Linked DNA regions of Homo sapiens: region 2 is linked to region 1. Evidence: fine-mapped expression QTL. A gene starts in region 1. The other region holds a variant in brackets. All regions are shown on one strand. Distances are from middle to middle.

Region 1 (16,124 bases):
CAGACTCATCTTCACTTTCTTCTTCTTCCTCTGGGGAAGCAGCTGAGGTTGTGGAGGTCACAGGAGGTGACACTGATGTCAGGCCAGGAGCTGAAGATGAGGATTCTACCTTTGGGTCTGAGCCACTGCTAAGTACTGTCTGGGACTCCCCCTCCGACATGCTGGAAGGAACACTCAGGCCTGCACTGGTTGGGGCAAATACAGAGGGAAAAGGCAGAGAAAGTCAGGATACATCTGTAAAGATTTAGTAATCCAGGCTGGACGTGGTGGCTCATGCCTGTAATCCCAGCACTTTGGGAGGCTGAGGTGGGCAGATCACCTGAGGTCAGGAGTTCAAGACCAGCCTGATCAACATGGTGAAACCCCATCTCTACTAAAAATACAAAATTAGCTGGGTGTGGTGACGCGTGCCTGTAGTCCTAGCTACTCAGGAGACTAAGGCAGGAGAATTTTTTTGAACCAGGGAGGTGGAGGTTGCAGTGAGCTGAGATCACGCCACTGCACTCCAGCCTGGGTGACAGAGCAAGACCCCATCTCAAAAAAAAATTTAGTAATCCAGCTGAGCACAGTGGCTCACCTCTGTAATCCCAGCACTTTGAGAAGCCGAGGCAAGAGGTTCATTTGAGGCCAGGTGTTTGAGACCAGCCTGGGCAACAAAGTGAGACCCCATCTTTACAAAAAAATTTAAAAATTAGCAGGGCAAGGTGGTACACAGCTATAGTCCCAGCTACCCGAGAGGCTGATGGGAGAATCACTTGATTGCCCAGGAGTTTGAGGCTGCAGTGAGCTATGATCATGCCATTGGCTAGGCAACAGAGGGAGACCCTGTCTCAACAAAAAACAAACAAACAAAAAAAAAGATTTAATAATCCTAATACTTATCTGCAAATTCAAAAGAAAATAAAACAGGCCAGGCATTTGAGACCAGCCTGGACAACATAAAAAGACCCCAGTCTCTACACAAAACTTTTAAAAATTAAAAATAGAAAACACACACCACCTTTGTTTCCTTTAAATCCAAAATCAGAATCAGTCCTAAATACTGAAACATTAACTATTCTCCTAACTCTAGTCTAGAAAAGGGGAGCTATCTTAGTTGAAGATGACCCTCCCAGGAATGACAAACACAAGATTTATGGCAGTCTAATCCCACTTAGAGTAAGGTTCAAATCACCAGCAAAATCAGGTGCTCCATTCCTTCTTGGCAAATACTCATCCAATAGGCTTCCCTTTGAATCCCCAAGTACACCCTATTTTTACTGTGCTCAAGAATTAAGCTATGTGTGGACGGGCACAGTGGCTCACGCCTTTAATCCCAACACTTTGGGAGGCCGAGGTAGGTGGATTACCTGAGGTCAGGAGTTCGAGACCAGCCTGACCAACATGGCAAAACCCTGTCTCTACTAAAAATAAAAAAATTAGCTGGGTGTGGTGGCACGCACCTGTAGTCCCAGCTACTCAGGAGGCTGAGGCAGGAGAATCACTTGAACCCGGGAGGCAGAGGTTGCAGTGAGCTGAGATCGTGCCACTGCACTCCAGCTTGGGCAACAGAGTGAGACTCTGTCTCAAAAAATAAAAAAATATAAACTATGTGGGCGCTATTCAGAACAGATGACTCCAGACTCCAAAATGTTTCAGTGAGACAGCCTTAAGGCTAGACCTGTAGCACCCTCAGCCAACTTATCCAGCTGAAACCCTTGGCTAATTTATCCAGCTAGAACTAACCTTGGCATTCACTATCCATCCCTTCTCTACACAGAACAAGCCCACTAGTCCATGGTGAGGCTACCCTTGGGGCACATGACTGGCAGTTGTTAGTGACTTCATCCCTGATGACCTCACCTTTCCTGTGATGTGAGTGTGACAAATGGGTATTGGTTAACAACATTTTTTTTTTCATTCACTCATTTAACAGATGTTTTATTAAGCATTTATTGTGGGCCAAGCACTGGGCTAAGTCCTTGAGATACAATAACAAACAAAATAAATGCCCACATTCAAGCAGCCACAAATTCAAGCCAGAGCTAAGACTTTAAGCTTCCAGCTTTCATTTCATTCACATTGCTCAAAGGCTCTGAAGTTTCCATTCTCTGGGGGACTAGATCTGATATAGGTTATTTATTTTTTGGCAGAGGGGATGGAGTCTCACTCTGTCACCCAGGCTGGAGTGCCGTGGTGCAATCTCGGCTCACTGCAACCTCCGCCTCCCAGGTTCAAGCGATTCTCCTGCCTCAGCCTCCCGAGTAGCTGGGACTACGGGCACGTGCCACCACACCCAGCTAATTTTTTGTATTTTTAGTAGAGATGGGGTTTCACCGTGTTAGCCAGGATGGTTTCAATCTCCTGACTTCATGATCCGCCCGCCTCAGCCTCCCAAAGTGCTGGGATTACAGGCGTGAGCCACCACACCCAGCCTAGGTTATTTCTTACAAGTATAAATAACTCAAGGTACAACTTTTATAGGAAAAAGTATTATACAGCATAACATTTTCAGGGTCATGGGTACTTGAAGAAAAAGAATTATTGAGAGCTAAATGCCATTAACTTGTACAAAAAGTCACAAGACAACCACTTAATGTTATTTCATATCTCTAAGAATAAAGACTGTGAAGGAGTTGGAACCTGTGTGTGCTCAGCTCAAGAGAGTTCTCTACAGTATGAAAGAGATACCCTGGGCCAGGCAAGCTGGCCCACGCCTGTAATCCCAGCACTTTGGGAGATGGTGGCAGGCAGATTGCTTGAGCTCAAGAGTTCGAGACCAGCCTGGGCAACAAAAAAATACAAAAATATACAAAAATTAGCAGGGTGTGGTGGCGCACGTCTATAATTCCAGCTTATTCAAGAGGCTGAAGCACGAGAATCACTTGAACTCAGGAGGCGGAGGTTGCAGTGAGCCCAGATGGCGCCACTGCACTCCAGCCTGGGTGACAGAGTGAGACTATGACTCAAAAAAAAAAAAAAAAAGAAAAAAAGAAAGAAAAGAAAAAGAAACTGATACCCTGGAAACTAAATGTGCTCCTCTAAGTTCAGAAGTCTCCAGTCAACACACCAATCTTTTGAAAAGCCCACATTTATTTTTAGAACTCTCTGATGCCCATTTGTGCCCATCTCTGCCCCCAATCTACACTACGTTTAACTCAACTCAGGAGATTTTTATTAGAAGACAGTCTAGTAAATACCAAAGAGCAATAGGCAGTACAGAGGAAATCTGGCAAGATATTCTTTCCCTATGTTATTTTCTAGATCCTGACTTATTCTAGAGAGATTTGCCAGGCGCGCTGGCTCATGCCTGTAATCCCAGCTACTTAGGAGGCTGAAGTGGGAGGATCGCTGGAGAGGGATTTAACTCAGCCAGCCAGGAAAGCTACTATCTGCCTGTTTTAGTAATCTACCAGAAAACTTCTGTTAGAGATCATGTTCCTTCTTCTGAAAAGTAGCTAAGAAAATGGTAAGACACTATTAGTTACTTCCTTGAGCAGCTGCATTCACTGAATGCATCTAAAATCTGAACAACTAAATAAAATTCCCAGCCAGACTACAGTAGGAAATAACAGTAGAATTCTAATACAGGAAAGCTGTAGCCAATGGGCTCCAGAGAAACTTCTGGACCGAGGACACAAATAACTAATCCACAGTAGGGCACCACAGGAGACACCAACCCTTCATCAGAGATAGATGCCCTTGGAATTTGCTTATCCCCCCCACCTTCCTAATTTTTGTGACTTTTTATCCCTTCCTAATTTTTCCTTCGCAGGCAAAATGAGGGCAGTGCCCAAGATTCTCCAGCACTACTCCTATTGATGAAGAAACCTCTGCGACACTGGGAGTTTTGTCTCGGAGCCGCTGAGAGGTTTTAAAGAGATAACACATGGAAAAGCTCATATACTCCCATAAGGGGATTCTCGCCGCCTCCAGCCACCCTGAGACATGCAGTGTGTTCACTTTGGAGTAATGCAGATCGCCCTGCAAAGTTTTTCCCCGACACTTTCGTTTATTGGACAGCAGCCCCTCTGCGTGTCAACTCCTCTGCAAGAGCTCACGGGCCCAGGCCTCTCAGCTGTCCTCACCCTGAACGGACCAGAGGGCCTCTGAGACCCGCAGCACAGTCCAGTCGGAAATAAAACCGCTCTGGGGAGGAACCCGGCCCCTAGAATTTCACACTCCAACAGGTCGCATGCCCTGCGTCTGGAAGGCAGCCGCGGCCCGCGCGGGAACCAGGCTGGGGCCCAGGGAGCCAGCGGCGGCCACCTCATCAAAGGCCGGACCGACAGCGCAGTCAGGGGCGCAGGCCACGCCCCCGCGCAGTCTGCGCACCTCCCCGCGAGCAGGCCAGGCCAGGCCGCCGAGCTTCCGCAGGCCGCCGGGCCGCGACCGCCGCCCCCGCCCCCGCCCCCACCCGCCGGGCCCCGCCTCTCGCAGCCGGAGTTCCAAGCGAACGCCAGGGCCTCCCGACCCGCGCCCGCAGAATCCCGGGGCGCCGCCGCCAAGCCAGAGACGCCAGGGAGGGCTAAGCAGCGACTGCGGGGCCGAAGCGGCCCCTCGGCTCCAGCAGGCAGGGCCCGATCGGGCCTGGGCTACTGAGTGAGCAGGGCCGCCTTCAGCACCCGACTGGCGGGTCCCACCGTCCCGGGCCTCGGAGGCCGATCCTTCCGTCCTCTCGCGAACCCCTCCCTCCCGGGCCCTCTTTTCCCTGGGCGCTCACCTCCCGACTCCGCGCCCCGCAGCCTGCGCTTCAGCTCCAGCTCGGGTTCCGGGGCCCCGGATCACAGCGACTCCCTCACAGCTGCGCTCCGCAGCGCAACCGAACTGCGGGCCCCGCCCTCGCGGCGCCCGGACCAACGATGGGCGGTGCCGCACCGCCGGCAGGTTTCCATTGGGTGACGTTCTGGGTGGGCGGGGCCCGGCCCTCGGGCGTTCGCTGGGGTGGGCTTCCACCCGCTCTCCTCCCCTTGCGCCGGTCCGGCCGAGACCTCTCGGAGGGGTCGATGTTTTCGGTCCCAGCTGGGGCTCGTCTCTCTGTCCACCCCACCGCCCGGTCCAGGTGCCCCAGATGGTTCTGCTGGACGCAGAGAGGGCCTCCTACCTCTTCTTGAAGGCGCCATGACAGTTCTAATGCCTGGAAAAGACAAAAGGAGCGAAAGACATAGCCTCAGTCCGAGAGGAGCGCCCCCACCCCAGCCCCCGCCTGCATTATTTTGGAACGAGACTGGTGTGCAGGACGCCAATTCTCCGGAAAGCTTTTAAAATTTACCTAACACTGAAAATTAGTAGTTAACGCTTGGTGATTGCTTAGCACTATTTGCTTAAACTTTGTAAGAGGTTTTCACAGATGTTATTTCATTTGATCCTCATAAGAACGAACTCATTGAAATTATCATTCAATGGTAGTTGACAAATGCAAAAACCTGAATCAGAGGTATTAAGCTATTAACCGAAAGTTAAGTTGGTAAGAGCCAAGTCTAGAATCCGAAACAGTAAATTTCATCAAAGGAGACTACGTTGAGAAGATGTTTGGAAAGAATTTAGATTGGTTTCGAGTTAGTGGAAAGAAAAGATGATAAATTCTTGGTGAGCTATTAATCTGCGAAAACTAAGCGCGGAGCCTTCAGGATGGAAGTTCACTCTGCCCTTAGACGTGTATGATGGAGGGAAGATGATGAATCAATCAACAGAACTTGGAAATGTCACAATCACCAAATTTTACTGTCATTAAAGAGAATCTCTAATCCTGTTTCACTGGGAGAAAGGACAACTGGCAGAAACCCTCTCGTTTTCTCATCATCTCAAAATACTCGTTTTTAAAACCAATCTTTCGGCCGGGCGCGGTGGCTCACGCCCAGCACTTTGGGAGGCCGAGGTGGGCGGATCACTTGAGGTCAGGAGTTCGAGACCAGCCTGCTCAATGTAGTAAAACTCCGTCTCTACTAAAAATACAAAAATTAGCCGGGCGAGGTAGCACATGTCTGTTCTCTCAAGCTGCTTGGGAGGCTGAGGCGGGAAGATCACTTGAGCCCAGGAGGCAGAGGTTGCAGTAGGCCAAGACTGCACGACTACGCTCCAGCCTGGGCAACAGAGTGTGAGAATCCGTCTCAAAAAAAAAAAAAAAAAAAAAAAAAAAAAAATATATATATATATATATATATATATATATATATATATATATATGTATGTATGTTTTACCCTTTCTTCCTTGATTCTTCTATCTTTGGAAGAGGGGGGCTCAAACACCCTTTTTAAAATCTGATGTAACTTATGGGCCTTCTCTTGTACTTTAAAAAATGCACTTACCCAACAAATTTAGGATATAATTTCAGGAAACTGAGGTTAAGAATCTTTGCTCTGGGCTGGGCGCGATGGCTCATGCCTGTAATACCAGCACTTTGGGAGACTGAGGCGGGCGGATCATTTGAGGTCAGGAGTTCAAAACCAGCCTGGCCAGCATGGTGAAACCTCGTCTCTACTAAAAATACAAAAATTAGTCAGGCGTGCTTGTGGGCGCCTGTAATCCCAGCTACTCAGGAGGCTGAGGCAGGAGAATCACTTGAACCCGGGAGGCAGAGGTTGCTGTTAGCTGAGATCAGGCCACTGTACTCCAGCCTGGGCGACAAGAGCAAGACTCCACCTAAAAAATAAATAAATAAATAAATAAAATAATTTCTTGGTTCTAATCTCAAAGGAAAAGATTAACCTTTCCTTCCTGTGGGCTCAAAAGCAATTGGAACACCTGGCCCAGGGTAAACATTCATTAAATATCAGTTCATGTTATCATTAGAGTTTCCCATTCTCTTCTGCCTGGGGCTTTATCATTATCAACCTTCCGCTTTCAACTAGGTCCTTTCAAGTATGCATGGAGGACCCTTTGGCATCCTCTAGCTCTCATTTTTAACCCTTCATTACATTTAAAATGATCAAATACTACCTGCATTTTCACCACCTCATGTATTTATTTTTTCCTGCTTATAAAAATAATTCATGCTCATTGCCAAAAAACAACGCAAAAATATTCCCAAAACTATTTTAGTATAATGTAATATTTATATAGTAGCTTCTATGTGTTAGGCACTTTTAATTGCTTTATGACAACAATGCTGACAACAGTAATATGAATATTAACAATTTCTGTAGAAAGTGAAATCTCTTATAATCCTACTTCCCCCGATAATTAAGACTTTGGTGTATTTTTTTTTTTTTGAGGTGGAGTCTCGCTCCATTGCCCAGGCTGGAGTGCAGTGGCACGATCTTGGCTCACTGCAACCTCCACCTCCCAAGTTCAAGAGATTCTCCTGGCCTCAGCCTCCCGAATAGCTGGGACTACAGGCGTGTGCCACCATGCCTGGCTAATTTTTTGTATATTTAGTAGAGACGAGGTTTCACCGTGTTAGCCAGGATGGTCTCGATCTTCTGACCTCGTGATCTGCCCACCTTGGCCTCCCAAAGTGCTGGGATTACAGACATGAGCCACCGCGCCTGACCTTTTATTTTTATTTTTCTAAGTATATATTCACATATGTGTATATAATTTTAAATGAAAACAAGTTTATACTACATAACCTTTTTCACTTTTTTCTATGGCAATGCACATGGCCCTACTTTAATTTTTTAACCACTACTTTAATTTTTTACTTTACTTGGGTTTTTTTTTGTTGTTGTCTTTTTGTTTTGTTTTGTTTTGTTTTTGAGATGGAGTCTTGCTCTGTCGCCAGGCTGGAGTGCAGTGGCGCAGTCGTGGCTCACTGCAACCTCCGCCTCCTGGGTTCAAGCGATTCTCCTGCCTCAGCCTCCCTAGTAGCTGGGATTACAGGCACGCACCACCATGCCCAGCTAATTTTTGTATTTTTAGTAGAGATGGGGTTTCACCATGTCGGCCAGGCTGGTCTTGAACTCCTGACCTCGTGATCCGCCTGCCTCGGCCTCCCAAAGTGCTGGGATTACAGGTGTGAGCCACTGCACCCAGCCTTTTTTTTTTTTAAGACAGGAATCTCACTCCGTCACCCAGGCTGGAGTGTGGTGACTCAGTCTCGGCTAACTGCCACCTCCACCTCCCAGGTTCAAGCGATTCTCGTGCCTCAGCCTCCCAAGTAGCTGGGACTACAGGCATGTGCCACCATGCCCGACTAATTTTTATATTTTTAGTAGAGAGAGAGTTTTACCATGTTGCCGAGGCTGGTCTTGAACTTCTGAACTCGGGCAATCCGCCCGCCTTGGCCTACCAAAGTGCTAGGATTACAGGTGTGAACCACCGTGCCCGACCCTTTACTGGTTAATTTTTAACCAGCAGAATATTCCACTGTCCAAATATGCCAGCATTTAATTAGTAACTACCTGTGGACATTGGGATAACATTCATCATTTATTATTATAAATAAAGCAGCAATGAGCATTTAGCTACATATATCTTTTTTTTTTTTTTTTTTTTTTTTTTTTTTTGTGAGATGGAGTCTCACTCTGTTACCCAGGCTAGAGTTCAGTGGCACAATCTTGGCTCATTGCAACCTCTGCCTCCCAGGTTCAGGCGACTCTACTACCTCAGCCTCCTGAGTAGCTGGGATTACAAGCATGTGCCACCATCCCTGGCTGTATTTTTAGTAGAGATGGGGCATGGTGGCACACGCCTGTAATCCCAGCTACTCGGGAGGCTGAGGCAGGAGAATGGCGTGAACCCAGGAGGTGGAGCTTGCAGTGAGCCGAGATTGGGCCACTGCACTCCAGCCTGGGTGACAGAGCGAGACTGTCTCAAAAAAATTTTTAAAAAAAGGCACCTGGCCACGGTGGTTCATGCCTGTAATCCCAGTACTTTGGGAGGCCAAGGTGGAATGATCACTTGAACCCAGGAGTTTGAGACCAGCCCGGGCAACATAGTGCGACCCTGTCTCTATAAAAGAATTTTTTTGGCCGGGTGCGGTGGCTCACACCTGTAATCCCAGCACTTTGGGAGGCCGAGGCGGAAAGATCACGAGATCAGGAGATCGAGACCATCCTGGCTAATACAGTGAAAACCTGTCTCTACTAAAACCAAAAAAATTAGCTGGGCGTGGTGGCGGGCACCTGTAGTCCCAGCTACTCAGGAGGCTGAGGCAGGAGAATGGCGTCAACCCTGGAGGTGGAGGTTGCGGTGAGCTGAGATTGCGCCACTGCACTCCAGCCTGGGTGACAGAGTGAGACCGTCTCAAAAAAAAAAAAAAAAGAATTTTTTTTTGTAATTAGCCAGGCATGGTGGCATGCCCCTATAGTTCCAGCTACTTAGTAGGTTGAGGCAGGAGGATCGCTTTAGCCTAGGAGGTCAAGGTTGTGGTGAGCCGTGATTGTGCCACTACACTCCAGCCTCTGTAACAGAGCAAGAAACTCTGGTATAGAGAGAACAATGGATATAACTTTGGGTACGTTAATAGGAAGAGGAATAGAAAGTAAAGATAGAGGAGAAAAATTAAGATAATTTTTCTTAATTTAAGAAACAGAGAGAAATGAAATAAATCAGTATTATGAAAAGGAAGTGAGTAGAAAATTTTAAGAAAGAGCTGTTCAGTAATCCCGAATGCTGAAGTGATCATGGAGAATTAAGAATAAAAAAGAGCTTTGCAGTAGAAACTTATAATAAATTGAGAGTAAAATTCCAGTAGCGAGAGGATGAAATTAACATTGTAGGAGATTGGGAAGACAATAGAATTTTTCTGATGTACAAAGAGCCCTTACAAGCCAGAAAGAAAAAAAATGATCAACTCAGTAAAGAAATAAACAAAAAAACTTGAATAGGCAAGAAATTGAAGAGGAAATACAACTGGGCAATAAACATAGGAAAAGATGTTTAGCTTCACCTATAATTAAATAAGTGCAAATTAAAACAGGATATCTTTTTTTAATTAATGTATCATCAAAATTAAAAAGATTGATGTTACTTGGGCCAGGCATGGTGACTCATGACTGTAATCCCAGCACTTTGGGAGGCCGAGGCAGGCAGATCACGAGGTCAGGAGATTGAGACCATCCTGGCTAACACAGTGAAACCCTGTCTCTACTAAAAATACAAAAATTACCTGGGTGTGGTGGCACACGCCTGTAGTACCAGCTACTCGGGAGGCTGAGGCAGGAGAATCACTTAAACCCAGTGAACCTGGGAGGCGGAGGTTGCAGTGAGCTGAGATCGCACCATTGCCCTCCAGCCTGGGTGACAGAGCAAGAGTCTGTCTCAAAATAAATAAATAAATAAATAAATAAATAAATAAACAAATATTGGTATTACTCAGTGTTGGTAAGGATGCAGGGGAAGAGGAACCCTAACATACTCTGGGTGGTATATTTTTGAAAAGCAACTTGGCAATATCTATTCAAATTTAAGATGTTCTTAGCCTTTTAAATTTTTTATTTATTTATTTTTGAGGATTCTCCATACTGTTGTCCCTAATGGTAGTACCAATTTACATTCCCACCAATAGTGTACGAGAAGGGTTCTCTTTTCTCTTTTCCCCACATCCTCACCAATACTTGTTATATTTTGTCTTTTTTTATAACAGCCATTCTAACAGGTGTGAGGTGATATCTTACTGTGATTTTGATTTGCATTTCCCTGATTATTAGAGTACTTTTTTCATATACCCGTTAGCCATTTGTATATCTTCTTTTGAGAAATGTCTATTCAGGTACTTTGCCCCCCGGCCTTTTTTTTTTTTTTTTTTTTTTTTTTTTTGAGACAGAGTTTCACCCCTGTTGCCCAGGCCAGAGTGCAATGGTGCAGTCTTGGCTCACTGCACTGCAACCTCCGCCTACCGGGTTCAAGCAGTTCTGCTGCCTCAGCCTCCCAAGTGGCTGGGATTACAGGCACCTGCCACCACGCCTGGGTAATTTTGTATTTTTTGTAGAGACAGGTTTTCACCTTGTTGGTCAGGCTGATCTGAAACTCCTGACCTCAGGTGACCCGCCCACCTTGGCCTCCCAAAGTGCTGGGATTACAGGCGTGAGCCACTGCGCCCGGTCACACCAGGCTAATTTTTGTATTTTTAGTAGAGACAGGGTTTCTCCATGTTGGTCAGGCTGGTCTCAAACTCCCAACCTCAGGTGATCCTCCCACCTCAGCCTCCCAAAGTGCTGTGATTACAGGCCTGAGCCACTGCGCCCAGCCATATTTTTTGTATTTTTAGTACAGACAGAGTTTCACCATGTTGGCCAGGCTGGTCTGGAACTCCTGACCTCAGGTGATCCACCCACCTTGGTCTCTCAAAGTGCTGGGATTACAGGCATGAGCCACCGTGCCCAGCCTGTTTTTCTTGCTATTGAGTTGTTTGAGTTTCTTATATATTTTGGATATTAACATTAGCCCTTATCAGATGCATAGTTTGCAAATATATTCTCCCATTCCATAGTCTGTCTCTTCGCTCTGTCGATAGTTTCCATTGTTGTTGTTGTTTGATGCAATCTCACTTGTCTATTTTTGAGACTACTCATTTCTATTTGTTCTAAGTCTGAGCTTCCCTGGTGACCTGCTAACCTAATTTCCCATGTGGACTATAACTTGCATTGTGACATGCCAGTTGCAGAACTCTGTAAATTTACTGAAAGTCATTAAATTCACAATGAGTGAGGTTTGTTTGTTTTTTTCTTTAGAGACAGGGTCTTGCTCTGTTGCCCAGGCTGAAGTGCAGTGGTGTGATCATAGCTCATTCCAGCCTCAAACTCCTGGGCTCAGGCAATCCTTCCACCTCAGCCTCCCAAAAGTGCTAGGATTACAGGTTTGAGTTGCCGCACCCATACTCCAATAAAACTGTCTAGAATCTTTGAAGGTCTTAGTTCCCACAGATCAGGGCAATTGGAAAACCTATTGGGTTTCTGCTCTAAGTTTTGTTTTTTTTTTTCTCAATGTGAGGCTTGCAAGCCATGCCTTCAATCTAATCATTTCTCTAGGGATGTGGTGTGGATCCTTTCTTCCAAAAGAGCCTTTTTTCAAACTGAAGGCCAAATAAAAATTGCATTTACATTTCTGTATGATTTCAAACTAAATAAGAGAAGCCTAGATTTCTTGATAATTGTGAATTAGCTGAGGTGTTTTAAAACACACATCTCCAGGACCCTCCCTGGATCAGCTGAATATGATTCTTGGGGTCAGGGAGACTTGAGTTTCTGCATGGCTAAGAATTTTTCCAGGTGATTCTGATACAGATAGCCTGTCATTAGGCTGAAGGATAGTAACCATAACCCTAGCTCACACCTTATCCTTGTCTTGGAATGATGCCTTGGGGCATTGCCTCATACCTTAGGCCTCTGAGCTTCATTTTAAAAGTTATTAAATGGGAACATTATTTGGCTGTATACCTGTAAGTCCTATCATAAGGAACTGAGTCAACTTCTAAGATAAACAAATACATAAATAGGGCCACTGAGAAATAAAAAGACAAACATAGCCCAATTAAATCTTAATTCAGCTGAGATTATTTGATTTCCACAATTGTGTTCAATTATGTTCAAATCAAATTCATGTATTATTTATTTTGCCCTTTTTTTTGTTTGTTTTTGAGACAGTCTCGCCCTGTTGCCCAGGCTGAAGTGCAGTGGCCCAATCTCGGCTCACTGCAACCTCTGCCTCCCAGTTCAAGCTATTCTTGTGCCTCAGCCTCCTGAGTAGCTTCGACTACAGGTGCGTGCCACAATGCCCGGCTAATTTTTGTATTTTCAGTAGAGACTGGGTTTCGCCATGTTGGCCAGGCTGGCCTCGAACTTCTGGCCTCAAGGGATCCACCCCTGTCGGCCTCCCAAAGTGCTGGGATTACAGGTGTTAGCCACCTCGCCTGGCCGTGTTGTTGTTGTTTTGTTGTTGTTGTTGAGATGGAGTCTTGTTCTGTCACCCAGGCTGGAGTGCAGTGGCATGATCTTGGCTCACTGCAACCTCCTCCTCCCAGGTTCAAGCAATTCTTCTGCCTCAGCCTCCCGAGTAGCTGGGATTACGGGCACCCGCCAGCATGCCCGGCTAATTTTTGTATTTTTACAAAATTACAGGCATGAGCCACTGCACTGGGACTTAAATTAAAATTTTTGATAATCCAGGAGATTACCCTGGATTATCAGGGTTGGCTCTAAATGTGATCACAAGTATCCATGTAAGAGGAAGGCAGAGGGAGGGTATGAATACAGAAAAGGAAATATGACCACAGAAGCAGGGTGGAGTGATGGCAACGAATACAGGCAGCCTCTAGAAGCTAGAAAAGGCAAGGAGCCGGATGCGGTGGCTCATGCCTGTAGTCCTAGCACTTTGGGAGGCCGAGGTGGGTGGATCACCTGAGGTCAGGAGTTCAAAACCAGTCTGACCAATATGGTGAAACCCCGTCTCTACTAAAAATACGAAACTTAGCTGGGTGGGCACCTGTAATCCCAGCTACTTGGGCAGCTGAGGCAGGAGAATCGCTTGAACCTGGGAGGCAGAGGTTACAGTGAGCCGAGATCGCACGCCACTGCACTCAGTCTGGGCAACAGAGTGAGACTCCGTCTCAAAAAAAGAAAAGGCAAGGAAACAGATTCTCCCCTAGATCCCCCAGAAGGCACTAGTGCTGCCAACACCTTAACTTTATACCAGCGAAACTAATTTCAGATATCTGTCCTCTGGAATTGTAAAATAATAAACGTGTGGCACTTTATATCACCAAGTTTATGGTAATGCGTTACAACAGTCATAGGAAACTAATACATACGGTTTCCCAAAGAACAAAGTTGATCTGTCTGAGCTGCGTTCTAAATGATAAATAGGAATTCAACAAGCAGTTAAGGAAGTGAAGAAAAGTCCAGTGAAGACTCTCCAGTATTGGAAGTCAGGAACTTGGACCATAAAACCTATGGTTTTCCACTCCAAGTTTTGTGAAGATGTCTCACTTTTTAGCAATAATAGTTGAAAATTTCGAACCTGGGTGTGGGTTTCCTTTCTTTTGCCTTACCTCCAGTTTTGCAGTTTGAAATTTAATCTTTTTTAAAAAATAAAATTTATTGTCTAGGCGCGGTGGCTCACGCCTGTAATCCCAGCGCTTTGGGAGGCCGAGGCGGGCGAATCACTTGAGGTCAGAAGTTCGAGACCAGCCTGGCCAACATGGAGAAACCCCATCTCTACTAAAAATACAAATATTAGCCAGGCGTGATGGCACGCGCCTGTAATCTCAGCTACTCAGGAGGCTGAGGCAGTAGAATCACTTGAACCCGGGAGGCGGAGGTTGCAGTGAGCCAAGATCGTGCCACTGCCCTCCAGCCTGGGCGACAGAGTGAGACTCTGTCTCAAATAAACAAACAAACAAACAAACAAATAAAATGTATTACGTCTTGGAGGGAAGAGAGGAGACTTTCCAGAGAGAAATTCTTCTTTTTTTCTTTTTTTTTCTCAGACCTCTCAGGGATGAAAAGGAGAACATTCTTCAGGAAATAAATGAGAAAACTAGAGAGATAATCAGATCACTGATACTTGTTAATTGTTGGAGCAGGTTTGGAGAGAGAGTGACAAAGATCTCGCCAAAAACAAGTAAAGAAATTCCTTGCCTGATTTGTTTGGTATTAAGAGAAACAAAATAATAAAAAGAACTCTAAGTTTGGTATGACTAACAAAAGAATAAGTTAATTCACACAGAATGCAGCACAAAAACTCGGGATATATAGATATAGTTAAAAGATGGGGAGGCCAGGCACAGTGGCTCACTCCTGTAATCCTAACACTTTGGGAGGCCCAGGCAGGCGAATGCCTGAGCTCAGGAGTTCGAGACCAGCCTGGGCAACATGGTAAAACCCCGTCTCTAGTAAAAATACAAAAATTATCTGGGCGTGGTGGCATGCGCCTATAGTCCCAGCTACTTGGGAGGCTGAGACAGGAGAATCACTTGAATCTGGGAGGCAGCGGTTGCAGTGAGCCAAGATTGCGCCATTGCACTCCAGCCTGGGCAACAGAGCGAGACTCCATCTCAAAAAATAAATAAATTAAAAAAAAAAAAAACCCGTACATGGATCTCCTAAGAACAAATAAGGATTTTTTTTTTTTTTTTTGAAATGGAATCTGGCTCTGTCTCCCAGGCTGGAGGGCAGTGGCGCAATCTCGGCTCACTGCAAGCTCCGCCTCCCGGGTTCACGCCATTCTCCTGCCTCAGCCTCCCCAGCAGCTGGGACTACAGGCACACGCCGCCACGCCTGGCTAATTTTTGTATTTTTAGTAGAGACGGAGTTTCTCTGTGTTAGCCAGGGTGGTATCGATCTCCTGACCTCATGATCTGCCTGCCTCAGCCTCCCAAAGTGCTGGGATTACAGGCGTGAGCCACCGCACCCGGCCGAACAAATAAGGATTTTAAGAGACAGTTCACTCTATATCCTTACTGAAAAGAAAATATGATCTCTCCCTGCCCCCCCACCCCCCACTGGAAGGACACAATCCTGCTAAAGACACAATTATTATTATTATTATTTTGAGACAGGGTCTTGCTCTGTCACCCAGGTTGGAGTGCACTGGTGCAACCACACCTCACTGCAGCCTCAACCTCCCAGGCTCAAGCAATCCTCCTACCTCAGCCTCCCACAGTGCTGGGATTACAAGCATAAGCCACCAAGCCCAGTCACAATTGATTTTATTTTATTTTTTGCGACAGTCTCGCTCTGTCACACAGGCTGGAGTGTAGTGGCACGATCTCGGCTAACTGCAACCTCTGCCTCCCAGTTTCAAGAGATTCTCCTGCCTTGGCCTCCGGAGTAGCTGGCATTACAGGCGCTCGCCACCATGCCCAGCTAATTTTTTTGTATTTTTAGTAGAGATGGTTTTCGCCATGTTGCCCAGGCTGGTCTCAAGCTCCTAAGCTCAGGCAATCCGCCCGCCTCAGCCTCCTAAAGTGTTAAGATTATGGGCGTGAGCCACCATACCCAACCCACAATTTATATTATTAATAAAAAGATAAACCCCAGCATATCAGTCTGAAAGACCTGAATTTTGGTTAATGGTCCTTTTGTGACTTTCTTTAGGATAGAGATAGGTATTTCTTTTATATGTGTCTAAAGGGCCCATTCTAGTGATTTCCATGAGTATAGGCAGATTGCTTCAAGATTAATTTATGTCTTGCCTTCTAGAAATAGAAAAGTACAGCTGTAAAACATAACACTTTTTTGACTTAAAAAAATAGTTTCATTTA
Region 2 (16,124 bases), 930 kb before region 1:
AGTCAGCCCTGGGAAAGGGGCAGGAGAGGCTGTCTCTGCTTGGCAGCTTTCCCTGGCCCCTGACTCCCGTGACCCTCTCCCAGCTCCACCCCTCCTCCCCACAGTGCTTCTCAGCCCCAGGCTTGCCCTCTGCTTGTAGCTGGTGGTGTCTTGAAAAAGGACCTGATGCTTCAGTATTAGGATGATAGCGGTAGAGACAGGCGAGAGAAAACTCCACAGCGAGAGACCAAGCTTCGAGCGTCCGTGCTGCCACCTGCTCCCCGCTGTGTGGTCTTGGACCAGTCCTTTCAGCTTCCTCCTCTGTAAAGCACAGGCCTGGTGGTGGCTGTCTGGAAGACCCTCTGCCTTCTAACACTTGGGGATTGTGAAGTACGGCCTCTCTCATGGTGTCTTTGTGTTATAAAGAAAAAGAACTGAAAAGAGGAGCCATAGCCCAAAAAGCTGTGACTCCACTGAAGAAATGCGGGTTCCAGGAGGCCTGTGGGAGGAATTGGGCTGAGGGTGTTTTGGTTGGGCAACCCCGCCTGCATTGCGTCCTCCCACCTCCTGCCTGAAACAGCAGTTCCGGCAGGCAGGCCCTCAGGGGCATCAAAGCTGAGCTGCGGCCCCACCCTGAGGCAGAGGGCCTGGGGCCTGGGGCGGGTGAGGACATATGGACAATGTGGGCACCACACCTGCCCCTACACTGCCACCCAGGCACACCCAGACACAGGGGACTTCCTTTAGGAACCCCCCAAACTCATGCCACCCTAGAGTGGGGGCTTGGAGACCCTGAGATTCCTGAGAAAAGTGAAGCCCCATTGGACCTCCCTAGACAGCTCTCTCTGCCCTCGTTTAAGCTGCCGACTGGCCCCCGCTCCACAGAAGGTGCCACCCACCTGCCTGCCACTCCCATCCACTCCCATGAGACGGAGCTCCCGCCTCAGCCAGCCCATCAAGACCAGTGTCTGGGCCCACGCTTTGGGGCCAGTTTCTCCAGGGAACCCTGCTCAAAGCATTGACAGAGTAAGAGAACGGTATCGAAGAATAAGCTTTACCTTACTTACGTAATCTCTCACCTCGAAGGCAGGGAGTTTGGCAGGTGAAGAAACTGAGGGCTGCGGGGGGTGGGGCTTCCTGGGTCACAGTTAGCAGGTGGGAATCGGGGCTTGAAACCGGGACCCTGCACACAGGCCTCAGGCTGGACGGCACCCAGCATGTGGGTGAAGAAGCTCCATGGTCTGGAGGCGAAAGCACAGGCCGGAGCCCCAGCAGCCTCCCCTCCCTCCTCTGTGTGCAGGCTGCGTCTGCCTCGCAGGGTCCCGTCTTATGGGACGGTGGTGAGGAGGTGACAGGGCTACAGAGACACATGGTCAGGATGCGTTATCGATATTATTATTCTTGCCACTATTATTGTGCCCGCCATGGCAAACGTGACTTTGCATGCCTCAGGTGCCAAGCCCGAGACCTCGTGAGACACCAGCAGAGACTGCCCCACCCAGCAGGTGACAAGTCTCTCACAGCACCCCAGGAAGCCGCCCTCTGGCCTCTGACGTCCGTCCTCTCCGGGGGCCTCTCCTTCCTTGTGGTTCCGTGTTAAAAAATCTCCCTCTGTCTTCCCCCTGACCCTCTGACCACAATGGCCTGGGCTCCCTGTCCCTCTGTGTGCATGGTGACTTTTGCTGAAAAGCAAACATCACTGGGGCGCCCAGCCTCGTGGTTTCAGGCTGTGCGGTTTACCTCATGACGTCATTTTCCTTCCTCCAGATAAACCAGAAGAGACTTTACTGCTCAGCTGGTCCTGGGGAAATGGTGCCTGCCCTGACTCGTGGAAGGTTCAGGGTGGGCATCTGGGCCGTAGCCAGGGCCGAGAAGAGGTCCCCAGGCTTAGCCAAGGCTCACAGTGACCTGTGTCTAAAGGAACGTTTCTGGCTCCTACTTTGTTAGCATAGACTCAGACAGCCCAGGGGCTGGGGCTCCCAAGGTGCAGAGGAAGGGTAGGGGGCCACAGCAGCCAGAGGCTTGTCCTGAAGCCCCTGACTGCCACCCCCAGCCACCAGAAAGGGTGGACCTTCTGGACCTTTGTGGCAGACCACCAGGCCCTGAGCCACCACCCACACAGGGAAGGAAGACAGTGGCAGCCCAGCCTGGAGAAACCGCCCCGTCCCCAGACCGGGTTGTCCCTTCTCCACGTCTCCTGTGCTGCCAGCCAGGTAGGGGACAGGGTTTCCCAGGGGCAGGCACAGGGGAAGGGGCCACCACCTCTCCTGAATGCCCACCCCTGCCCAAGCTCTGTGCTTTATGGTCTCTTTGACTGTCCTCACAGCCCTTTGAAGTCAATCTTTTATAGACTACTCTGTTTCCAGATGACAGGCCCAAGTCTCAGAGAGGTTTGGGACTCGCCTAAGATTGCAGCTAGCAATGGGCCTGGCACGCAGTTGGTACTCGGGAATGTTTGTTTCCCAGAAAGGAAGGGAGATGCTACCTTTCCTCCGAGAAGCAACCAGAAGTCTCCAGGCTTGCAAGACAGTTTCCCTCCTGAGGACAGCTGGAGCCGTGACAACGTGGGGCCCTGACTGGGCTGCGCCTCCTCTCTGAGGTGGCTGATGCATTCTGCTCCCTCGGGAGCTTGGATATCAGGCTGCGGTCTGGGGTCTGGAGTGGCCACAGCAACACAGAGTCATCTCTGTTCAGATCTGGCCACTGCTGGGGAAAGCCCTGGCCCTTCTACCTTCCCTGTGGGGTCCCCTTTCCTTCCACCTGCACCAGGTTCTCATGGGCTCTCTACCCATGCCCAGCAGGCTCCCTCTGCAGGGCACTGGGGCGGGGTCGGGGTCGGCGGGGCGGGGGAGTAGGAGTGGGCGGGAGGGCAGAGAAGACTGAGACAGAAGACATGTTCCTGTCTTCAGAAAATCAACGCTCTTTTCAGGACTCACCATAGGAACGATGACCACTGCCACCATCACCACGGTGCGGAATAATCACTGCACATCCTGAGCCCCAGCCTAAGCAGGTCCCACAGATGTCTCATTTTAATCCTCTTCCACTTTAATCCTTGTTAAAAAACAACCTGTGAGGTGGGTGCGGTGGCTCACGCCTGTAATCTCAGCACTTTGGGAGGCCAAGGCAGGTGGATCACTTGAGGTCAGGAGTTCGAAACCAGCCTGGCCCACATGGTGAAACCCTGTCTCTACTAAAAATACAAAAATTAGCTGGGTGTGGTGGTGGGCGCCTGTAATCCCAACTACTCTGGAAGATGAGGCAGGAGAATCACTTGAACCTGGAAGGCAGAGGTTGCAGTGAGCCGAGATCACACCAAGAGCAAAACTCTGTCTCAAAAAAAAAAAAAAAAAAAAAAAGCTGGGCACGGTGGCTCACTCTGTAATCCCAGCACTTTGAGAGGCCGAGTCAGTTGGATCACAAGGTCAGGAGATCGAGACCATCCTGGCCAACATGGTGAAACTCTATCTCTACTCAATTACAAAAAATTAGCCGGGCATGGTGGCAGGTGCCTGTAATCCCAGCTACTTGGGAGGCTGAGGCAGGGGAATTGATTGAACCTGGGAGGCGGAGGTTGCAGTGAGCCAAGATCGCGCCACTGCACTCCAGCCTGGGTGACAGAGTGAGACTCCATCTCAAAAAAAAAAAAAAAAAAAAGCCCAATAAAACAATAAGAAAAACAACCTGTGAAGTGGCTATTATTTTTCCCATTCTACAGATGAGCAACTGAGCTTCAGTTTCCTGTCCATCATCGCCCAGCTAGGAAGTGGCGGAGCTGGGAGTGGACTCTGGGATGCTCAGGCTGTAGGACCTGTGGTCCATAGCGTGCACTGTGCCTCAGACCTGAGGCAGAAGGATGCACCTTCCAGAAAGACGTGCTGTGCACATGCAGAGCATGAGATGCTGGGAGCCAGGGCCCTGTGAAGGGCCTGAACCTTGAGGACAGGCAGGAACTAGACTGGCAGGGGGAGGCACGGGCACTCCCAAGACACAGACTGGCCTGAGCCCAGTTTCAAGGGAAGGAGCCATGATGCCTGTGTGAGGGCAGCAAACTGTTCTATGGGGCCAGAGCCCAGGGCCTGGGGAGGGAGATCAAAGCCAGACCAGAGCAAAGCTGGTGCTAGGTGATAGTCTGCTGCCCACCCTCCCTTCCCGCTGTTCAGGCCTGGGCCCCACTCAGAAGTCTGTGTCCTCAGGGTCAAAGGCCCATCCAGGGTGGTGCCACCCTCCTCCACTTGAAGCCACTCTCTCCCATCTCTCCCTGTGGCCCAGATGCCTGCCAGGGTCAGCTGTTGGGACTTAGCCGTTCCAGGGAGGGAGGCCTGGGCAGCTCGGAGCCAGTGGGTTTGTGGGTTGAGCCAGAGGGCTGGAGAATGATCCCAGCTGATAGGGCCCACGTGGGTGGTCTCTGGGAGAGCCTGGGAGGGAACCAGGCAGGGCGGCTCTGTCCTTGGCCTGGGCTCCCAGAGCTCAGCTAGACTGTTCCTGGACAGGCTGTGCCAGCTGCAGGGCCTCCAGACCCCAGACTCTATCCCCGAGTCATCCATCGACACCAGGAGTCACTCCTAGGTAGACACAGCTGCCTGCTCGGAGCCCTGTGCAGCTCCCTCTGCCCCCAGTCCCCAGCCACCCTCTCCTCTCAGCAGCCTGTCCTCTGCTCCTCCATCCTCAGGAGCTGAGCCTCAGTGAAGTGGCTGCTAGGTGCTCCAGAGTGAAGGCAGGACAGGACTCTGAGCTGGACTGCCAGGCCCAAGGTGACTTGGAGGTGGGGAAGAGGCACGGCCACAGGCAGTGAGCCCTGAGCCAGAGGCGGCAGGGACAGTGTCTGAACCCAGCACTCCCTTCCTCACGCCCCTGGCAGGAGGCCCAGGCGCAGCGCCAGCCTCACAGGCTGATTCGTGACTGAGAAGCTGCCTCGTGGGCCCTGCTCTGGGTGGGAGGGGCCTGGGAAAGTCAAGTCTCTGGGCCTTCGCTGCTCTGTGGGGCCTGCCCAGGCTGTGTGTGGCTGCTGGGAGGCACCGAAAAGCCGTTTTCTTCATTAAGCATCTGTGTGGAGATGGAAGGAACCAACAGGGATGCCTCTCCAATCATACAGACTTGGGCCAGCCACCACCTCCTCAGTTCTTCACAATTCTCCTTGCTCTCCCTCCTGTTGTGGTCATTAATTTGGGAGGCTCTGGAGGGGGTGGGTGGCATTGTTCCCTGCCATCCTGCTGTCCAGAGCCCAGTTCCATCCCCGGCTCTGGAACCCTAGAAGATGCGAGGCCCCCAGGACACCATTGCCATCCTCAGTGGGCTGGGTGAGGCCTGCTCCGGGCCCACTCACAGGCCAAGCTTGAGTGACACAGGAGCCAGAGATGGGGCTACTGCAGTCCCCAGGCAACCTTATCTACAGTGGCAGCTGTGGCCACAGTAACCTCTCCAGTTGGGCAGGACGGTGAGGTCAGCCATCAACAGCCAGCCTGACCTTTCTGGAAGCCAGCCAGCCAGCCATGTCTGCTGCATCCAGGCAGGACTGCAGCTTAAGCTCTGCTCTTGGAGAGCTGGTTGCCCAGGCAGACCCATCCGTAGACACAGCTCTCTGCTTCAATGTCCCAGCCTGGGAGTCCGAGAAGGGGGCCTGGTCTGTGCCTCTCATCAGCTCCCGAGCACCAAGCTCGCAACCAGCCAAGTGTCCATTTTTAAGTGTTCCCGCCTGTAAATGAGGGCCTGGGACGGACTAATGCAGAGTGGGTAGTGCAAGGAGAACTGATGGGGACAAAAGGGTGGCCTGGCCTCCAGCCAGGGCTACTGGAGTGGGCAGGGCAAGAGATGATGGCAGCTTGAAGGAGGGGGGTGTGGGCAGAGGGAATGGGGCAAGGTAGGTGGATCTGAGAGAGATTTTGGGGTGAGAATAAACAGGACCGGTGACTGGATGTGAGGATTAGACAGTGGGGAGTTCTGTCTTGCACAACCTGGGGCGCCATGGCCTGAGCTGGAAGCCTGAGGCTCCCAACCTGCTGAGCGACTTGCCACGGGCTGATGCCCCCTGGGCCCGTGCTCTCATCCCTCAACTTCCAAGGGATCCCTGATCCCATTGACTTCCAAGGTGGGAACGAGTGAGGTCTCATCCTCTCTGCTCCAACCACCCTGCAAGTTTGGTGCTCTGGGAACTCATGTGTTCCTGTCTCCACTTGTAACTAAAACCATGAAAACTTGAAACACACAAAAGAAGAAGGGACTATCATGGCCCTGAGAGCCCATCACTCAGCTTCAAGGCTCATTGTCATCTTACCTTTTTTATTTCTTTTTTCTTTTTGAGACAGAGTCTCACTCTGTTGCCCAGGCTGGAGTGCAGTGGCATGATCATGGCTCACTGCCACCTTGACCTTCTGGGCTCAAGCGATCCTCCCACTTCAGCCTCCCGAGTAACTGGGACTAAAGATGTGTGCCTCCACGCTTGGCTAATTTTTTTATTTTTTGTAGAGATGAGGTCTCCATATGTTGCCCTGGCTGGTCTTGAATTCCTGAACCCAAGTAATCCTCCTGCCTCGGCCTCCCAAAATGCTGGGATTACAGGTGTAAGCCACCACAACTGGCCCTTCTTTACTTCTTAGCTAACTTAAAAAAATTTTGGTATTTTATAACAGTGCCAGACACTATATTATTTTATCCATAAATACTTTAGTTTTTATGTCCAACAGAATGAGGGATTCGTTTTTTTTTTTAACATAACTATAATGCCAAGTCTTAGCAAATGTTAATAAAGTTAACAATTTCTTTTTAAAAAAATTTCAACTTTTGGCCATGCGCGGTGGCTCACACCTGAATCCCAGCACTTTGGGAGGCTGAGGGGGTGTGGATCACTGGAGGTCAGGAGTTCGAGACCAGCCTGGCCAACATAGTGAAAACCCATCTCTACTAAATATATATATATACACAAAAATTAGCTGGGCGTGGTGGCGCGTGCCTGTAATCCCAGCTACTCGGGAGGCTGAGGCAGGAAAATTGCTTGAACTCAAGAGGTGGAAGTTGCAGTGAGCTGAGATCATGCCACTGCACTCCAGCCTGGGTGACAGAGCAAGACTCCATCTCAGAAAAAAAAAAAAATCAATTTTTATTATAAAGGGTACACCTGCAGATTTGTTACATGGGCAAATTGCATGACACTGAGGCTTGGGGTCCCAGGGACCCTGTCGCCCAGACCGTAAGCATAGTACCCAACAGGTGATTCTTCAGCCCACACCCCCCTCCCTCCCTTCCCAGTCCAGTGATCCCCAGTGTCTACTGTTCCCATCTTTATGATCATGTGTATTTAACATTTAGCTCCCACTTATAAGTGAGAACGTGGTATTTGGTTTTCTGTTCTTGCATTAGGTTGCTTGGGATTATGGCCTCTAGCTCTATCTATATTGTTGCAAAGGACATGATTTCATTCTTTTTATGGCTGCATAGTATTCCATGGTACAACAATTTCTTAATATCATATAAAACCCAGTTCAGGCCAGGCGTGGTGGCTCACACCTGTAATCCCAGCACTTTGGGAGGCCTAGGCGGGTGGATCATTTGAGGTCAGGAGTTCAAGACCAGCCTAGCTAACATGGTGAAACCCCATCTCTACTAAAAATACAAAAATTAGCCGGGTGATAATGGTGCGAGCCTGTAATCCCAGGAGGCTGAGGCAAGAGAATCACTTGAACCCAGGAGGCGAGGTTGCGGTGAGCTGAGGTCATGCCACTGCACTCCATTCTGGGCAACAGAGTGAGACCCTGTCCCCCCCGCACCCCCTCCAAAAAAAAAAAAAAACCCAGTTCAGGTTCCCACTTCCCTGGTGGTCTCATCCTTCTAGGAGCAGCAGGGACTTGGTTTCTAGGCATGGGGAGATTGAGCAATCTATTCCTATGGTGCTTAGCCATGTGCCAGAGGCTGGGCTGAATAGGCGACAGGGACAGGCCCTGCCCCAGAGGAGTGCTCAGGTCACTACCACTGGCCGCTGCACGGAGAAGAGTCTTCTTCCTCCACCAACCTGGAGTCCAGGAAGACATAAAATCTCCTGCCTCCCCAGCCTTCCCAGGAGAAACTCAATGGGGCGATGAGGCCCTCTAATGGGGTCCGCACCTCCCTCCAGCCCCTTTTTCTGTTTGCCCTTCTCCGCGCACCCTGTGTGCCAGCCAGCTGGCGTGACCAGGCCTGACCGCTGGCCCAGAACACCCCTTCTTCTCCCTCCCTTCTGGGTCCTGCTCCAAACCTCGTCTGTGCAGCTCCCGCTGACCGGCCAGGGTTATTCAGGTGTCCCCAGCCTACCCCTACCCCCCACCATCCTGCTGTGACGACTGCTCAGTG[T/G]GTCTGGGAGTTTCCAAAGGGCAGGACAGTGTCTGCTGCATTCTTGTGTCCCTAGTGGTTCACACATAGCCCTCCGTGTCAAGGAGGTGCTGTGTTTGCCGTATGACTGTGGCGTGCAAGTAAAGGCAAGAATAAGTGGGGGAACAGGGAGACGATTGGCAGGGTGGGAGAATGGGTGAATGCTGTCTCCAAGTTCTCTGTCCATCTTCAGAAGCTGGGAAACAGATGGAGCCAGTGAAAGTGTTGGGGACACTTCTCTGCCTTGGGGAAGACGTCTCCCACCCCTTCCCAACAGCAAAGGCCTGCCGCTCTGGTGTCCCCTGTCCCTGGGCTCTCTTCCCTGCTGGCCTGTCTGCACCCCCAGGGCAGTTTCCCTCCCCAGGGCAGGCTGGGAACAGCCGTAGGGAGCACAGCTCACGCCCAGACCCTGTGCCTGCTGGTGGGGTCTGTTTGCACAGGGTCATCTGGTTTCAATCCAGTGAAGTCTTAAAACTTTTCCATGGGAACTTCTTCTATTTTAAGCTCCTCCCGGATGGGCTGGACAAACTCAGCCTGAGGAGGCTGTGAGTTCCTGGGCTGCTGCTGGTGGCCTCACCACCCCCAACTGGTCCCCAACAGACAGGAGCAGGTAAGGCTTGGGGCTCAAGGACTCCGGCCCAGCTCCAACCGTTACCCATCAGAGGATCTTGAGCAAGTTTCTGCTTTCTGGGCCTCAGTTTCCTCATCTGTACAGCCTAGGGTTAGTAACAGGGAGCCAAACTGCCGGAGTTCAAATCTGGCACCACCCCTGAGTTAACTGTGTGACTTTGGCAAGGCTACTTAACCTCCCTGGGCTTCAGCTATAACATGAAATAAGTTGAGTTGCTGGGATTACATGAACTGGTGCCTGTGAGTACACAGCACAGTGCTGGGGATATGTGGAAGCCTGTATACTCAGTGCTGGTTGTTACAGATCTATTTCTTAGCGGAAACCCATGGTCGTATGTGTTTCAGAATGTCTGCTTCTGGAGTTTTAAAAAGGTAATATGCATATTCCAATGTCATGTATAACCCAGTGAGATCTGGGGAAACACCCCATGCTCAAACACATTACGGTTTCCTCATTGAAATGTGAATCTTTACTCAAAGTGAGAGAAAAAAAGGACTTAGGTTAGGCTAGGTTTTGCTAAATAAGGTATGGAAAAGCCAGCCGGGCACGGTGGCTCACGCCAGTAATCCCAGCACTTTGGAAGGCCGAGGCGGGCGGATCACGAGGTCAGGAGTTTGAGACCAGCCTGACCAACGTAGTGAAACCCTGTCTCTACTAAAAATACACCAAATTAGCCAGGCGTGGTGGCGGGCACCTGTAATCCCAGCTACTCAGGAGGCTGAGGCAGGAGAATCGCTTGAACCCGGGAGGCAGAGGTTGCAGTGATTCGAGATTGTGCCACTGCACTCCAGCCTGGGCGACAGTGCGAGACTCCATCTCAAAAAAAAAAAAAGAAAAGAAAAAGGCTTTGGATTTTCAGAGCGTTGGGAGTTTGGAATTGTGGACAAGGGATTGGGGACTGTATTGTTATTGTAATTATGTGTTTAGGAAAAAGGGGTGGTCCCTCCTGCCAGAGGGGGCAGGTAAGCCTGCTGGGAAGAGGGCAGCCCCTCCCTGCAGGCTCAGCAACCACTGGGTAAGACTTGGCCCTGTAGATGGAAACCTTGTATGCAACAAAAGGCATCCCTTCCTCTGGGCAGGCAGTACCACATCGGCAAACCACACAGCCTAACAGGGCGGCCCTGCAGGCCGACGGGCCCTGGTGGGCTGACATCACCCTCACCGGTGTGGACACTCTGAAGGCCCACCTGCGTCTGAGCGGTCACGGGTAACGTAGCTGGCCCATCACATAGCTCTGAAAGGAGCTCCTTCAGGTCAGGACATCTGTGGCTCCCCGAGCTATACCTCCTGACCCATCTCCCTCCCCAGCCCTCCACTCTGGTCACTTGGGCCAAGGGGTGTAGGCCCAGGGCTGTGTGGGAGGAGGGAATGAGCTCGTTTCATCTTAGAATCCGAGTCAGAGTGACAAGTCTGGGCTGGATGTCCCCATGGGGTCATTTTATCTCACCCACCCCTCATCCTATGGAGAGGGGTACAGTGCCCTGAACATTAGCACAGAGCTTTAGCATTTATAAAGCCCTTCCACAGGCTGTGATGTGATATTAATAAGAGTCTCATCCCCGCTGTCCTATGTTTTATTAAAACCAGGACTCGGAGTGAAGTGAGCTGCTTGGGGTCACACTGCAGTGCGTGGTGGGGCCCAGGTCGCCTACCTACCTGTTGAGTGCTCTCCTCCGCAGACCTCACTGCCTCTGGGTCCACTACAACTCCACGGTGGCCTCCCAGGGACGCCTTCCCTGCCGGCCGCTGAGGATGCTGGGAGCAAATACCGGGCCAGAGGCAGGGATGGGAGAGGACAAGCTGGGCACAAGCCCGGGAGGGACCCGGCCCTTGGGTCCCAGGAGCTGGCGGGGATTGCGTCCTCCGCCTCCGCTGCGTCTGGCTTGCGGAATTCCCTCTTGCTGAATGCCTGAGGATTAAACACAACACCTCAGCTCATAATGAAATATAAAGAGCAAACAGGACAACAGCTGAGGTGGATGAAGGAAATTAATACTTATAAAGTGCTTTGAGCCCCTGGAAGAAAAGACAGACCAAACTCAAAGCCTCCCTCCCCTGCTCCCGTCAGCCTATCAGGCAGCCAGGGTGGCTCTGAGCCTCCTCATGGAGGAAGAGGAGGAGGAAGAGGAGGAGGAAGTGGAGGAAGCTCAGGCCCAGTATGGGTGTTGGGATCAGACTTGGGACTATCTGGTGGCCTGGGACTGCTCAGCCCTGGAAACCCAACATGGGCACCTGTCCCGGGTCTGAGCTACTCAGGAAAACACTCCCCTCCCTCTGGGGGCTTTCTGGGCTGGCTGAGGTGATGCAGGGGGTGGGCACGACTTTGGAGGCCGGTGAGTCCACCTCAAGACTTGCCCAGGGGTCAGTCCTTGGTACGGGCAGAGGACAGTCACCTCCGCCATGTCCACAGCTCATGGCATCAGCGAGGAAGGTGGGCTGGACACTGGCACAGGGACTCCCACGGACAGCCTTGTCCTGTCCCTCCTCTGCTGTGTCCTCCTGCAGCCACCTGGTCACCTCAGCTCGGCTGGGAAGGCCTTCAGAAGCCAACTCTTTCAACCATGGCCTCTCTTCTCCTCACTCCCACTCTAGGTGCAGCCTCGCAGCCTGGAGGCTCAACACGCTTCTCACTGTCTCACGGAAGGCACCCACCTCGGCCCTTCCTCCACTGAGCTGCCAGAATATTCCAGCACATTCACTTCTTTCCCCCAGCTCTGCAGTCTTTGAGGCATGAACTGACGCCATCACCACGTTCGTTTCTCCCTGTTGTTTGCTGACCAATCTTAGGTGACTCTGACCCAGGTGCGTTTCCTACAGAAAGGTACAAGTGATTATTTATGGGATAGATATATAATAGGGAAAAATCAAGAAATAATTCAAATGGCTAAAAAATAACGGAAAGGGGTAAGTGAACTATGGAGAAATATGAGATGGGTTCACCAAAGATGGCAAGATGGTAAACACTCGGGAAACAAAATAGAAAAACGAAACAAGATCCGCAATTGTTTTCCATTGTTTTTAAGCATGTTAACAATGAATAGGAAAAAGACTGGAAGGAAACCCCTTTAGTCCTCAGACCTCAGCTGGGATATCATTTCCTGCCTCAGAATAAATAAGTACAAAATATTTGTTGAACGCTGTTAAATACCTACACGCTGAGCGTGGTTCTGTCTGGAGGAGGGAGCCTGCGTCGTTTCTGGTGTCTGCTCCTTTCATAAGAGGAAAAGTTCAGGTGCGGTGGCTCACGCCTGTAATCCCAGCACTTTGGGAGGCCGAGATGGGTGGATCACCTGAGGTCAGGAGTTCTAGACCAGCCTGGCCAACATGGTGAAACCCCATCTCTACTAAAAATACAAAAAATTAGCCGAGTGTGGTGGTGGGTGCCTATAATCCCAGCTACTCTGGAGGCTGAGGTGAGAGAATCACTTGAATCCGGGAGGCGGAGGTTGCAGTGAGCCGAGATTGCACCACTGCTCTTTAGCCTGGGCAACAGAGAAAGACTCCATCTCAAAACAGACAAACAAACAAACAAAAAACAAAAAAAAAACAGAGGAAAAGTCTCTCGTGCTAGCCGTTTTGCTGGCAGTGGCATGGGCGGGTTGGAAGCCTGCTGCCCGCTGTGATACCTGCCTGGGAGCCCACCTTCCAGGTCACACCCACCTCTGTTGACCCAGGCCCCGGGTGGCAGAGCTTTTGGGCAGAACATGGCTGGCCCTTCTCAGGCACTCCGGGGGCCCTGTTCGCCTGCTTCAGGCAGCTGGATTCTCTGGGGCTGAGTGAAAGGGGAAGGCAGCCTGGCACGGGGCACCTCCTCCCCACTCTCCCCTCTGTCTAGTGGGTGGGTGCCAGGGCAGGTCCCAGAGGCTGGCTGAGGCCGGGGAGGGCAGGCAGGATGGGCGTCACTCCCGTTTCCTTTGCAGTTCGTGGTATTGTCACCACCTCCTCAGGGCACCTCCACCAGGCCCCTAACCTGACCTGGCAGCAGCGGGGGCAGTGTGTTAGGTGGTGGCAGTGGCAACCTGCTTACGTTTTCACGTGGCCATGACCTTTTACTGTCCCCAAAGCCTCCCCTCACCGTATCTGCCTTGTTCTTAGCACCAGCCTGTGAAACAGGCTTGGTATTTTACAGATGAGGAGGTCTAGGTCAGGGAAGCCACCGTCAGTGTGGTCAGGGACGGCCAGCCAGGACTCAGCTCACCGCGATCTCCTTAACCCCCACTGCTCCTTGCCTGTCACCTCAGACGTTCTGGATGCAGGGACAAGCTCCGCTGGGCAGGTTCTGGAGGGACCCAAGGCAACGCCCCGGGGCTGGGGCCTGGGGCAGGCTTCGGGAGGAGAGCTGGGGACTACCGCTTTCACTTGCCTCTTCCAGGCCTTGGCTCAGACGTCACCTCCTCAGCCAGGCCAGCCCTGCCTCTCTGGCTAAAAATGCACTCCCACCCCTCCCTGCTTTCTCTTCCCTGTGCTTGGCTCCTAACATTCCCTCTGTATATCTTGTTCATACCCCCTCTCCCCTGATGGGAATGGAAACCCCATGAGGGCAGGGGTTGTGGTGCTGTATTTACTGCTATACTGCTATAGAATGGTGCCTGGCACAGAGTAGTTGCTCAACATGACTGCATGCATGAGAACCAGACCTTGTGTGCACCTCAGCCCCATGGGAGAGTTCGCCAGAAACCGAACCACCACAATGAAGCAAAGAAACCAAGAGTCTAAAACCATGCCCAGCTGGCCCCTCCTCCAGGAAGCCCTCCAGGATTTGCTTCAGCTGAACGCCAGCAGTGTGGATCTGCAGCTCTGTTATGTGGCTTACCCCAGCCTCTCCCATCAGTGGCAGGGGTGTGCACTAGCCCCAGCTTCCTGGCCTTTCAGGCGCAGGGCTAGGCTTATCCATACAGTCCCAGTGCCAGGAACAGAGAGGATGCTCGACAGATGTCTGTCAAGTGCATAAATGGGATGCAAGTTCTGTTGCTCCCCGAAGAGTACCCACTGCTGGCACACAGAAAGAGCTTAGCCGATGTGTGTGGAATGGATGAATGGCTGCCTGGCCCAGTGCTGCTTTTCCATTCCATTTTACATCAATGCTTTGCCCGTCCTGACCTGTCAGAGCCCAGACTTGTCTGCTCACCTGTGTCCTGGTCACACTAGGCCCATCTTGGTCAAGGCCTTTTGGCTCCAGGATGACCCAACACCTCTTCCTGCAGCCTCTGCAGGCCTGGCCACCCCACCCTGGGTGTGGGACACTCCTCAGGGCCTCTGGACCACAGAAGACAATACCCTCTCCAGCCCTGGAAACCCTGCTTCTGGCTTTGGGCTGCCTGTCAGGGCGGCTCACATGTGAGCAAGCAGGCACTGCTCCAGGGGACGGACGGGTACTGGAGAGGGAGCATCTCATCTTTCAGCCGACAGCTGTGGATGGTCACACTCTGTGTTTATCCTGATTCTCCAGATAGATCACGGACAGCCCGCAGTGCAGGGGCTGGCCTGCAGCAGATCAGCAATGGGGCTGTGCCTGGCAGTCAAGACTTGAAAGAAGTCTAATGTTTATTGTATGTTTTCCAGACAGGAGAACCCCCTGGCTAATCCTGTGTTCTAGATTTGACAGAAAACATGCCCACTCTGTGGGGTAACTGGTCCTTAGTGCCCACTGGAATCCTTAGAAAACATGCCCACTCCGTGGGGTAACTGGTCCTTAGTGCCCACTGGAATCCTTAGAAAACATGCCCACTCCGTGGGGTAACTGGTCCTTAGTGCCCACTGGAATCCTTAGAAAACATGCCCACTCTGTGGGGTAACTGGTCCTTAGTGCCCACTGGAATCCTTAGAAGGCAAGTACATGAGTTATTGGTTAAAAGCGGGGAAATAAATTATTATTTAATAAATGTAACTTGGCCAAGGATGGTGGCTCATGCCTGTAATCCCAGCACTTTGGGAGGCCGAGGTGTGAGAATCGCATAGCTGAGGAGTTTAAGGCTAGCCTGGGTAACATGACAAGACCTCCGTCTATATAAAAATACAAAAATTAGCCAGGCATGGTGGTACGCACCTGTAGTCCCAGCTACTTGGGAGGTTGCGGTGGGAGGATCATTCGAGCTCAGGAGATGGAGGCTGCTGTGAACTGAGATTGTGCCACTGCACTCCAGCCTGGGTGACAGACTGAGACCCTGTCTCAAAAAAAAAAAAAAAAAAATTTAAAAAAGTAACTTAATAGACAAAACCTCTGGAAACAAGGGAATTTAGGAGCTTGACAGAAGTGACGAGTCAGGGCCCCCAGGTCGCGCTGCTTAGCACAGGCTTACAGGGGAGCTGTGGGAAGAGAGGAGGGGGAGGCGGCAGGTGGATAGCCTTGGGCAGAGGGCCTGGGAGCTCATAGAGGTGGACAGCTGGCAGAGACACTCGAAGTGGGAGTGGCTCCAGCAAGAGGACTGGACTATCGTATGGGAGAGGCCAAAAAAGATTTTGTTGTTTTCGGTCAGTTAAACGCTTAAGGACAGGGATATGGAATGGAAAGGAAGGAGTGAGAAGAGGGACCAGGAGCAACTTGTGCCAAACCTAAAAGGCAATAATAATAAAGATAGGCTTTTCTGAGCACCACTGAGTGCCAGGCACTGGTGTAAGTGTTACAATGCTTATAACTCAGTGCCCTCATCATGGAGTCCTCCTGCCAGCACCGCGTGGTGAAGTTCCATTTTGCAGAGGAGGAAACTGAGATCAACTGGCTTGTTCAAGTTCACGCACCTAGGAAGTGGTGGAGCCAGGTTTGACTCAGGCCGGCTGGTTCCAGAGCCCATGGGCCTCAACTCAGCCAACGAGCCCATTCGCCTTGCCAGGGCTTGGTTTCGCTGAAGCGGGGCTCCAGGCTGGAGTTAGTTTTGTGAAGGGGATTAGCCCTGGTGGCCGCTGGCTGCTGACAGCTGGCAGTTGGAGTGGGCGAGGCTGAGGGGGCCCCTGGGCCTGGGCAGCTTGGGCAGGAGCCGGCGAGGAAGGGGAGGTGCCTCAGGGGGCCGCCTGGGTGTCGGTGCGGGTAGAAAGGCGGGAGAGACAGGCAGAGGCAGCCGTCTGGGTTGTACAACCTGCAGCCCACGCACGCCGAGAGCCACCAGCGTGGAGTCAGGATGAGGAGTCCTCCTCCCACCTGGTGTGGGCTGGAGTCCCAGGAGCGGGTGCTGGAGTG

Direction of the effects. Alleles are on the strand shown, and positions count from the first base shown. SD is a standard deviation of normalised expression in the study named.
With allele T in place of G in region 2, the expression in monocytes after Pam3CSK4 of the gene that starts at base 4,803 in region 1 is higher (moderate effect, 0.56 SD a copy in Quach 2016).

Evidence for each region. PIP is the estimated chance that this variant, and not a neighbour inherited with it, causes the effect. A credible set is the group of variants that fine-mapping cannot tell apart.
Region 2: its variant is the best candidate, but not a certain one, in a credible set for the expression of NRBP1 in monocytes after Pam3CSK4 (Quach 2016, PIP 0.69).

The regions. Positions count from the first base shown.
Region 1 is chr2:27,417,310-27,433,433 of GRCh38, reverse strand. NRBP1 (nuclear receptor binding protein 1) reads right to left here and starts at 4,803. Exons shown (of 18, transcript NM_013392.4): 1 at 4,703-4,803; 2 at 1-180. The coding sequence starts at 160. RefSeq lists an enhancer at 2,617-2,916 and a silencer at 4,286-4,435.
Region 2 is chr2:28,345,001-28,361,124 of GRCh38, reverse strand. LOC105374381 (a long non-coding RNA gene) reads right to left here and starts at 12,226. Exons shown (of 3, transcript XR_939873.3): 1 at 12,103-12,226; 2 at 11,603-11,761; 3 at 7,037-10,859. LOC105374382 (a long non-coding RNA gene) reads right to left here and starts at 2,748. Exons shown (of 3, transcript XR_007086256.1): 1 at 2,465-2,748; 2 at 1-1,336. RefSeq lists enhancers at 1-207, 606-1,805. The variant T/G (reference allele first, on the strand shown) is at 8,302.